Linked DNA regions of Homo sapiens: region 1 is linked to region 2. The links come from fine-mapping of genetic effects on gene expression. A gene starts in region 2. The other region holds a variant in brackets. All regions are shown on one strand. Distances are from middle to middle.

The links. PIP is the estimated chance that this variant, and not a neighbour inherited with it, causes the effect.
Region 1: its variant is fine-mapped to the expression of CHAC2 in whole blood (INTERVAL, PIP 0.97).

The regions. Positions count from the first base shown.
Region 1 is chr2:53,709,807-53,715,192 of GRCh38, forward strand. It overlaps ASB3 (ankyrin repeat and SOCS box containing 3), which reads right to left. Exons shown (of 10, transcript NM_016115.5): 7 at 4,578-4,775. GPR75-ASB3 (GPR75-ASB3 readthrough) reads right to left here. Exons shown (of 10, transcript NM_001164165.2): 7 at 4,578-4,775. Among named protein-coding and RNA genes, the nearest start is that of CHAC2, 55 kb to the right of the region's middle. The variant G/A (reference allele first, on the strand shown) is at 2,966.
Region 2 is chr2:53,764,941-53,770,326 of GRCh38, forward strand. It overlaps CHAC2 (ChaC glutathione specific gamma-glutamylcyclotransferase 2), which reads left to right and starts at 2,864. Exons shown (of 3, transcript NM_001008708.4): 1 at 2,864-3,081. The coding sequence starts at 2,947. It overlaps ASB3 (ankyrin repeat and SOCS box containing 3), which reads right to left. Exons shown (of 10, transcript NM_016115.5): 2 at 437-645. The coding sequence starts at 632. It overlaps GPR75-ASB3 (GPR75-ASB3 readthrough), which reads right to left. Exons shown (of 10, transcript NM_001164165.2): 2 at 437-645. RefSeq lists enhancers at 2,836-3,185, 3,206-3,395.

The sequences.
Region 1 (5,386 bases), 55 kb before region 2:
GGGCTTGTGTATGTGATCTGCGGAGGTGACAGCCATAATTTCAATGAACCAGGTCACTGTGACTTCCGTCTTGTTCTCTCTTAGACCTCTTCCTCTGAGGGAATCAGCTACCATGCCATGAGGATACTGCAGCCGTCCTGTGGGGAGGCTTTTATAGAGAGAAACCGAGGTTTCCTGCCAACACCCAGCCATATGAGTGATCCATGTCAGTGAGCCTCTGTGGAAGTTGATCCCCTGGCTCCTGTCAAGCTTGCTAATGACTGTAGCTTCATCTGATATTTAATGCAACTATAAGAGAAACCTCCAAGCCTGAACTGCCCACCAAGCTACTCCTGAATCTCTAACCAACAGAAACTCCAGAAGCTGCATGGCTGTGCCACGCCAGTCTGCACGCTCCAGCTGCCAGACAGCATGTCTTCCCCTTTGTTAATAATTTCTAATGGTTTACTTTCAAGTTAATTTACTCTTTCCTATATCTTTCATTTGGCTATGGAGTCCATGTAGTAAATTTTTCATTGCAGATTATTGTATTTTTCCGTCTTTTTTATAGTTTCTACTACTCAGCTGAGAATTTCTACCTTTTCATTTTTTCCAGTGTGTTAGCCTCATGAAGCACCATTATAAGAGCTGCTTTCAATTATCTGATATTTCTAATATCTGGACCATCTCAGGACTGGCATCTATTAATTGCTTTTTCCCATGAGATTTAGTAATGTTTTATCAGTTCTTCATATGTCAAATAATTTTAGGTTGTCTCCTGGACATTGTGAATGTTATGCTGTATAAATTCTGAGTCCTGGGTCTTGTTATAATCCTTTGAAGAACACTAGCTTTTTGGTTTGTTTATTTCAGCAAGCATATAACCTAGTTAGGTTCAAACTGCAATTTCTGTTTTACCTTATACAGTGGTTCCAACGTCAGCTCAGTTCTCAAAAGCCTTGACTTTCCTGCTTTAAGCTTGGACCCATGAATGTGCCACTCAGGGTCTAGCCTGAGACTCTGATGATAGTTCAAATCTTACTTTCAACATTTTGGGTTGGCTGGGTGCTGTGGCTCACGCCTGTAATCCCAGCACTTTGAGAGGCCAAGGCAGGGAGATCACCTGAGCTCGGAGTTCAAGACCAGCCTAGGCAACACGGCAAACCCTGTCTCTACAAAAAATACAAAAAAAAAAAATTCCAGGCATGGTGGCGCACAACCGTAGTCCCAGCTACTCAAGAGGCTGAGGCAGGATAATTGCCTGAGCCCAGGGAAGTCGAGGCTGCAGTGAGTCATGATCATATCACTGCACTCTGTGTGGGCAACAGAATGAGATCCTGTCTCAAAAACAAAACAAAATAAAAAACAATTTGGGTCTATCTTGTGCATTTAAAGCTTGGGGTAAGTCAGGAATATGCAAATTCATATGCACAATTAGGGTATCCGCTTCTCCAAGCTCTCTCTTCTCCAAGATTCCCTACCATTCTCTGGCCCACAGGGTTCCATTTACCTGATTCCTCTGACCAGAAAAACAGGCTTTCTATTGTGTCTATGTTTCAGCTTCCTCAGTAAGTTTAACAGGATCTATTTAGTGCTCTCTATATTAAACAACTGGTCAATTAATGTTACTGACTGATATTAGCTGCTGGTGCCACTGGTGCTACTCAGCTCCAGATCAGGGTTGGCCCTCAGGGCAACACAGCAGAAGAAAAAGAAGGCCAGGCGCGGTGACTCATGCCAGCACTTTGGGAGTCCGAGGCAGGCAGATCACTTGAGGTCAGAAGTTTGAGACCACCCTGGCCAACATGGTGAAATCCCATCTCTTTTAAAATACAAAAAGTAGCTGAGCATGGTGGCACATGCCTACAATCCCAGCTACTTGGGTGGCTGAGACAAGAGAATCACTTGAACTCGGGAGATGGAGGTTGCAGTAAGCCCAGATCGCGCCACTGTACTCCAGTCTGGGCAACACAGCGAGACAGTCTCAAAAAAAAAAAGGAAAAAGAAATGGGAAAATTCGTTTTCATGTGGGTCACTTCACCAAGTTACCACTCTCTTTCATAATCTATCTGCTTTTGTTCCTTTGAGAGTCCTCAGGTAGTTTCTTTTTGAATTTTGACCACAGTTTTTTGTAGTCATTAGAGAGAAAGAGAGAGGCTGTAGTGGAATTACTCCACTGCATGTTAAGAACTTCTTAGCATCACTGAAGTTTACACAGAAAAAAATTCTACAGAGTAACTGAGACATAAAAAGCAAACCAAACTGTGGAGTTCCTTAAAAATACAACTTTGGAGTACTTGTGAAAGGAAAAGAAAAAAAATCATTTATATCACTATTCAAGAATGAGATAATAGCTCCTATTTGCAGTTATCCCAGACACAGCAGAAAAAAATAGGAACCTTCCCTTCCATGAGTCTCTATAAAAAAATACAAAAAAAAAAAAATACATTAAAAACGCTTCTTTGCCAAAGACAGCAGAAGATAGTGAAGTAAATGCCACTAAATACTGTTTTTCCCATTAGGTTTTAAATTCCTAAAGGATCGTGTGTATGTTTCAGCTTCCTCAGTAAGTTTAACAGGATCTATTTAGTGCTCTCTACATAACAAAATGGTCAATTAGTGTTACTGACTGATTTTGTAGAAATCAAAGGAGAAAAAAGGGTCTGCCCCCTAAAATTTCAACTAATCTTGGAAAATCCAGAAACCTATTTAAGATCTTTCCCACCTAATTTCATTTATCCGAATCTACAGAAGGCATGAAACATACTGCCCAGCTCCCAAGGAATATCATTAATTTTAAGGTGTTTCAGAGTTAACAGGGGTACTACATTATATGGCTTAATTCAAACTACACTTATAAGGTGATGAGGCGTGAGCTTAGCTGCTGTGACCAGAAGGACCAAAAACATTGTTCATCCAAAAGATAAGATGAAGGCCAAAAAAGACCATCATCATATTGAACACACACACACACACACACACAGGC[G/A]CGCGCGCGCGCGCAATCCAAAATCATTATATTCTGGTCTAATAAGAAATGTTCAGTTCTGTAACGGACTTAAGATTTGGGATAGAGAAAGGCAACTAAAAGTTATCAGTGCAACCTCACTGAAGGTCAACTAAAGTAATTAGGGCTCTTCTGTTTAAAAAGACAAAACTTAACGGGGTACACAAGAAAATCCTATGAAATCATGAAAGTTATACATAAAGTGGGCCCCAGATACTCAGATTAACCAAAACCCAAATATTCAAACTAAAATGTATAAGTTTAAGAGGCCGGATGGGGTGGCTCACACCTATAATCCCATCACTTTTGGAGGCTGGAGGCAGACAGATCACTTGAGGCCAGGAGTTCGAGACCAGGCTGGTGAAACCCTATCTCTACTAAAACGTGTAAGCTTAAACTTGAAACAAATTATAGTGAACTACTAATTTTACATGGCAAATGTTAAGAGATAGTAAAGGCTGAAAAGCTTAGTAAATAATTTCTTGATAACTACTCAAATTAAATAGAGATTCATAATAGTGAATTCAAGAAGGCCAATACAATTTGAGGTATGCCTGCAACCTCTTCTGTGTCATTAAACACAATAGCATCTATCTTCATAACTTATTCCATTATTGGATGACCAGATATTACTCAATATGGCTGTTCTTACACACAGCTTTATTCTTAGTGTTTTAAAACTGTAAGAGTGTTATAGACAAAGTTACTGGCCAGACACTAACAAGGCAGCAGTAATTCTTCACTTAGTCTATTTCACAGAATTATGACAGATTAGAAAAATAATTAATTTGGGGGCGTTTAAAAACTTAATTATTTAGACTCACATCCAAAAATAATATAAAGCCAGGCATCGTGGCTCATGCCTGACATCCCAGCATTTTGGGAGGCCGAGGCAAGGGAACTGCTTGAGCCCAGGAGTTCAAGACCAGCCTGGGCAACATGGAGAAACCCCATCTCTACTAAAAATAAAAACATTAGCTGGGAGTGGTGGTGTACACCTGTAGACCCAGCTACTCTGGAGGCTGAGGTGGGAGGATCACCTGAGCCTGGGATGCAGAAGTTGCAATGAGTCAAGATGGTGCCACTGCACTCCAGCCCGGGCCACAGAGTGAGACCCTGTCTCAAAAAAAAAAAATTTTTTTTAATGCTATCCACCAAATACATTAAAAACACAATAATATCTATAAAACTAAAGTTTAATTTTTAGGCTTATATCTTATAAATTTGAAACGGTAAATGACCTGAAGCAGTCACTGCCTTACTTGATAAAGCCCCATTTTTAATTCTTGAATTGTTTTGAAGACCAAAAATATCAGCAAATTTCTGCGTCTACTTAAATTGTACGTATTCCCTAAGATTGCTACACTAAAAATATAATCCAGATCCAAAGAAGGAAGGAAAACAATGTGATATTATCACCTCATTTCTGCTTCAGCTTGACTGAAACATCATAGTTTTTTTCCTATTTGTGTTCCAAGATAGCAATTTAGCACTAACAGAGATACTAAGTTTCATCGTGAAAGAAAGTCACTTCAAAACACATCTCCATACAGCAAAAAAGAATAAAAAATAAAAACATAGCAAATATACATACTCCTTTTGGAAAGCCATGCACACAGGAGAACTGAATCCAAAAACAAGGCACGCCTGGGCGTCTGGGCTGTAGCCATTCCGGAGTAATATTTCTAGGCAATCTTCATGTCCCCCAAACACTGCTGAGTAAACAGGGCTTACTTTGTTTAGCCCAGTGTCACAGGCCCGGTTAGTAAGTGGTATTAACAAGTCCAAGATTCTATAAATACACAAATTCAGGAGAATTTAGTGTTTGTATATGTGCATAAATGTAGGCAACATTTCTATAGCACAATTTTTTTCAGAATTACCAACTGATTCATTTAAAGAAATATTTCTGTCTAGGGTGTACCTTCTACCAACAACATTAAACTATTACATGCTATATATTTACTCCAGAATGTTACACTTATTATTGCTTAATAAAAAGGTCTTTAAATACATTTGAAACAAAATTAATGTTCCTATATGTAAACAGAAAAGGTGCTCTTTTAATTTTATTACCTTACTAGCACCACCTTAACCCCCAAAATTCAAATTTTATGTTAGATATTTTAGGGTTTAATAAATTATTTAAAACATCATTCTACTAAGTATAAACTGGCATCAAGAAAATGCACTATTTTCCTTCTTAAAGTACCAACTAGTTTTTCTTTTCCAATTAGTAAAAATTTTTAAAGATGATAACTGGCATGAAATTAAGACTAATGTTTTCATCAGGAAGAAATTATAATTTGTGCTAAAATATTCTATTATCTGAAAAAAAAGTGAGCTCATTAAATATGGAGGCAGATTTATAAAGAAGCTGGCTCCTAGGTAGAGAAAGTTCTA
Region 2 (5,386 bases):
TCATGCTAAGTAGTTGTAAAAATTCCCAAAAGTATTAAAAAGTGTTTAAAAAGAAAAAGACTAATTCAATCAAAACACATCCTCAATTTCAGTACAATTGCTCTTTCTGTTTGGTAAAGGAAGAAAGAATAAACATGACCAGTAACTACCAAATGCTTAAATTCAAACAGCAGACTACTTCTCCCATATCACCTAGCTCAGTCAATAAAAAGAGGCCAGACAGAGGCACTTCCGTATAAGATGTCCAACTAGAGTATCATACTAATTGAATCCAAGGCAGGCAATCTTACTATCCTTAATAAATAAATTCAGGCAGTTATTTTATGACTATAGAAAGGGAAACAAATACTACTGTTAATAAGTTATGTATTATACTTTTTTATGTTTTATTAATCCAGCTTGTAGGCAAAGCCTCCATACCTTGAATTTACTTTACCTGCATTAATTAACATTTGCAAACATTCTACAGAGTTGTGATAAGCTGCTTCATGAATTGGCATCCATCCCCTGTTATCAGCAACATCGACACTTCGGCCCTTTTTGAGCAGTTTCCTTAAGACTTTAACATTGCCTTCCCTGGCAGCAAGTCCAACTGTAGAGCACGTGTCCGCGTAAGCCTCTGTAAAATCCATTTGTTTGACCAGTCTACAAAACAAGGTAGAAGGATAATACTATAGTCAATAAAACAACACTTCACTCCTAGAGGTCAGCAAATCACGGTGGGCCTGTCTAGTATCTCTCACATGACTGACGAAGAAGGGCCCACAATACAGAAAGTGACTGCCATGCCACAGTCTCTGCTGGTGCCTAAAGCAGGAAGTTTCTCTGTTTGGCAGATTGGAATTCCTTGGAAGGTTCCCACTAAAAACATGAAGGGACTTTTAAGTGTTCTATCTTTCCTCCTCTGGAAATGTTTGAGGAGTAGGCTTCTGCTCCTGTTCATACCCCACCACAACGCATTCTTTGGTGCTCCATTGATAAGAGCACCCTCTTTGGTGCTCCATTGATAAGAGCACCTCTGCTTAATCCCCAGTGTACACTACATTATGCAGAGATGGCCATTCAACTACCAGCAATGCTCAGCCTCAATATACAGCCCTCTATAGGAAACAACTAAACCCAAAGAGGCCAGAAAAGCAGTGAAAGATAGGTGTCATTCTAGTCTTCCTGCACCTGCTTGTCCTTTCCAGAAGAGGTTAAACACTCAGATTCTCTATGCTTGACCAAATAGACCCACTGACTGAGCATACTGAAACCAACAGAGAACACCATGAAGAGATGAGCCCGGTTTTCCTACATAGCCCAGAAAGTTCTTAACAGAGTTCTTGCCCACATCATCACCTCCCTCCAATGCTCACTTCAAGTTCCCCTCCAGTCAGAGTCCAGTATAGCTCTCATGTGACTCTCTCGAAGACACAATTTCTTGTTAGTGACTCTATGAAGCAGTTTGGATATGGAATACTTATTTGATTACATAACTATTGTTAATTTTCTCAGATGTGATAATGGCATCACAGTTATTAGGAGAATGCCCTTATTCTTTTTTTTTAGGGAACTTGTTCTAGGATGAATGTCCTTATTCTTATGAGACACATGTAGAGTATGTGGCAGTAAAATGTCATAACACAAGCAACTTCAAATGTTCTCCATTTAAAAGTATAAATAAAGTAAAAAGGAAGTACAGCAACTGTGCAAAATGGTAATTACTGGATCTAGATGAAAGGTATTGGTCATTACACTCTTTTTATCTGAGTTTTCTGTGTATTCAAAATTTTTCAAAAAAGAAGGGTTAGCAACCATATCAGGCAATTTGAAACCACAACTTAGAGAAAATAGGAAAAGACTTGCTTTTTTTTTTGTTTGTTTGTCTGGTAGCAGCTTCCTGCTGATTTCTTTATAAGAAAACAAATAATACCCCTTGAATCTGAGTGTTTTAGCATTCAAGATCATGGTATAAAAATCTTCAAGAAAGAACAATCACTTGGTAAGGTTTCTGTTTTCACACACAGAGACACAGCCATGATAGTCCAAGCGAATTTCCTAAACAATATTTTGCAGCAAGAGCTCTAATGAGCAGATCTTCAAAAAATTTTAGGATCCTTGACCCCTTGGAGAAACTCATGAAAGCTGTAGTTTCCCCCTAGAAAAGTGTACACCCCAAATTTTGTATACAAATTCAGGTTCCCCAGCTCGTTTCCAAAGCCTTTACAGGGGCCCCAAGTTAAGAACATTTGCCTGCTCTTTTGTGAACAAGCCAATGATAATACTAAAGATGAATAAATTTGTGTAAAATTTAAATATATAAACAATTCCCATTGAAATGACAGCTACTCTTTCACAAGCGTAAACTTCTATTGTAAACTTTCTGCTTTTATTTGAAAGGCAAAAGACTTTTTTTTCAGGACATAAAATCAAATATGAATTACATTCCTCTGGCTGCTGTTATATAGGCAAAAATCTAATTTCCAAAGCAGAACAAAACGTGTTTCTAGGTGCTTTGCTACCTGCGGTGCTGGTACACCGCCTCCGTATCTGGACACGAGTGACGACTCCTGCTCTTTTCTCCTTCCTCGGCCCCGTTAGAAATAAGCCCAGTTCCAATTTCAGAGCCAAATAGCTCCAAAAAGCATTGTGGGTATTGTAGTTTTCTGCACACGGGCACTAAAGGTAGGTTAGGGTGATTTACGGATGCTGCAAAAGAATCCATTGCTTACTACACCGAAGGTCAATGCCTCTTGACACCCTAATCAAGGAAATAAAATAAAGCTGACTGAGATCCGCTCGGAAAATCTTTCTGGATCTAAACTCCCAGTGCGCTTTGCGCCCCAAGTGGCCATCGCGCCTGCGCCCCGCGCGGCCGGTTACTCGCTTACCGGAGGCTTCAGTCCCCGGCGGCGCGGCGACAGCTAGGGTTCACGGCCACTGGGGCAGAGGAGCCGCGAGAAGATGTGGGTTTTTGGTTACGGGTCCCTGATCTGGAAGGTGGATTTCCCCTATCAGGACAAGCTGGTCGGATACATCACCAACTACAGCAGGCGCTTCTGGCAGGGCAGCACGGACCACCGCGGGGTCCCCGGCAAGGTGAGGCGCCGGTCAGCTCCCCACACTTACTGCCCCCTGACCCCTGCTCCCCAACTCCACACACAGCACCCACACCCTAGAGAACCACACCTTAGCGCTTCATGGGGCCAAAGCACATGGCTTGGGGTAACATTTCTGTAGATTTTCCCTGCCACCTGCCCGCCATCTCTAACCCAGCCCGGGCACTCCTTCCGAAGCTGCTTAAGATGCCGGTGGTTAGTCTCTAGAGACGGCGAGAAGCGCGGGCACAGGCGCACGAGCTCGCACCAGGCTGAGTGCGGAGATGGGGACTCCATCTCTCTGCAACCTCTGCCAAAAGAAAAAAAGTCCCATTGGCGGGAAGATGAATGCTCATGTCACCACAGAGTTGAAATAGTAAATCAAGTTGCAAATTCAGCTTTTTAGCAATTAAATTTGTTGGCATTTCTGCATTCTAGCCGACTTTCATGAGCTTGCGATTAAACGTGCATGTTACTTCTAGGATTTCTTTACATCTTTCAAAAGTTTTATTTTCTGACACACAGGATTGCAGAATGAGTTTCCAAAATTTTCGCTGGTTATTAAGGAACTCACTTTGGTTTTCAGTACTAGTGAAGTTAAATGAAGTTCTGGTTATATGAATAACATAGTACCAAACTCATTACTATATCCAGCATTATTTTAATGTTACTTTCTTGATGGTTCTCATAATTATAATATGAAATGTAAGTTCATTGATTCACTTTTCAGTCAGTCCTACAAAGACATTAATCTCAATATATGTATAGAGAATTAGCAGCAGCTCACTGCTTATGCAAATCAGCTTTGTACTGGCTACAAAACAACTAATCCATAAAGAAAACTAAGATTGAGGTAACTAATAATTTGGAAATTGGTCAATGGAAAGTGGAAAAGATCAAGGCGCTAAAGTAGTTTGCACCTGCTCATAAGAGAGACATGGGATTAAAATCACGAAAAGAACCTGAATTAGAAACCATTCTATCTCAACTAGAGTTGGTCAGTTAAGAACTTGGCTTTTAAGTAGACTATACTGGCCTATTGGGATGTTGGACACAGTGACCTGAAAAGGGGCAATGGCTTAGGATAAATGCACATTTACAGATCAACAGAAATGTCATGGCCAAAGTATCTCCAAGAATGTTCTAGAACAATATTCAAGACATTAAAGAACTAAGCTAAATTAAATGGCTTCTGAGTTGTCAGTTTTGGCTGGGCCCGGTAGCTCACGCCTCTGATCCCAACACTTCGGAAGTTTGAGCCAGGAGGACTGCTTGAGGCCAGGAGTTTGAGAGTTGTCAGTTTTGATATGAATATTTAAAATTGCCATTCCGAAAAGAAAACCTTTAGCCCAGGCTCCAATTATAATGACCAAGTATTAAATATTTATGTATGTGGCTATAACAACATACTTTACTAGTCTTGACGAAAATGTACAGTGTGTTACAAAACACATTGAGATATGTATGCTGTCAGAATAGACTGATGATTAGAAATTGCCTAGTCAACACAACAGTCCGTGATTCTTTAAAAGGAGAAAGGGGCTGGCCAGGCGTGGTGGTTCCCGCCTATAATCCCAGCACTTTAGGAGGCCTAGGCGGGTGGATCACCTGAGGTCGGGAGTTCAACACCAGCCTGACCAACATGGAGAAACCCCCTGTCTACTAAAAATACAAAATTAGCTGGGCGTGGTGGCGCACGCCAGTAGAGTCCCAGCTACTCTGGAGGCTGAGGCAGGAGAATCGCTTGGGAGGCAGACGTTGCGGTGAGCTGAGATTGCGCCACTGCACTCCAGCCTGAGCAACAAGAGTGAAATTCCGTCTCAAAAAAAAAGAGCTAAAAAAAGGTGTCTTTCTGATCACCTAAGACTCAGAATTCTAACTGCACTTAATACCATACATCTTAGCCCATATCTTAGCTCTATTTATTTCACATGTTAGTTTGCATTCTAGAATGACAATATAAGCTACTGGAACCAAGAATCAAGATTTCATCTTCTCCACAGCACACAGTAGCTATGCATAAATAACTTCTAATTCACTTTGAAATTGAAAATAATATGGCATTATCTACTTGACCCTCACCAATATATATATATCCTCATTGTAGCATCATCTTAAAAAGAAAACAAGTCAGAAATCTAAATGTCCAAGAACACAGGAACGTTTATAGTTCATCAATGACACAATATTATGCAACTATTAAAATGTATGAGAAGACTAACAGGAAAATTAAATGAGAAATCATAATCCAAAATCCCATGTGTTCCATGATTACAAATTATCTATACGAACAGATGAAGACTAAA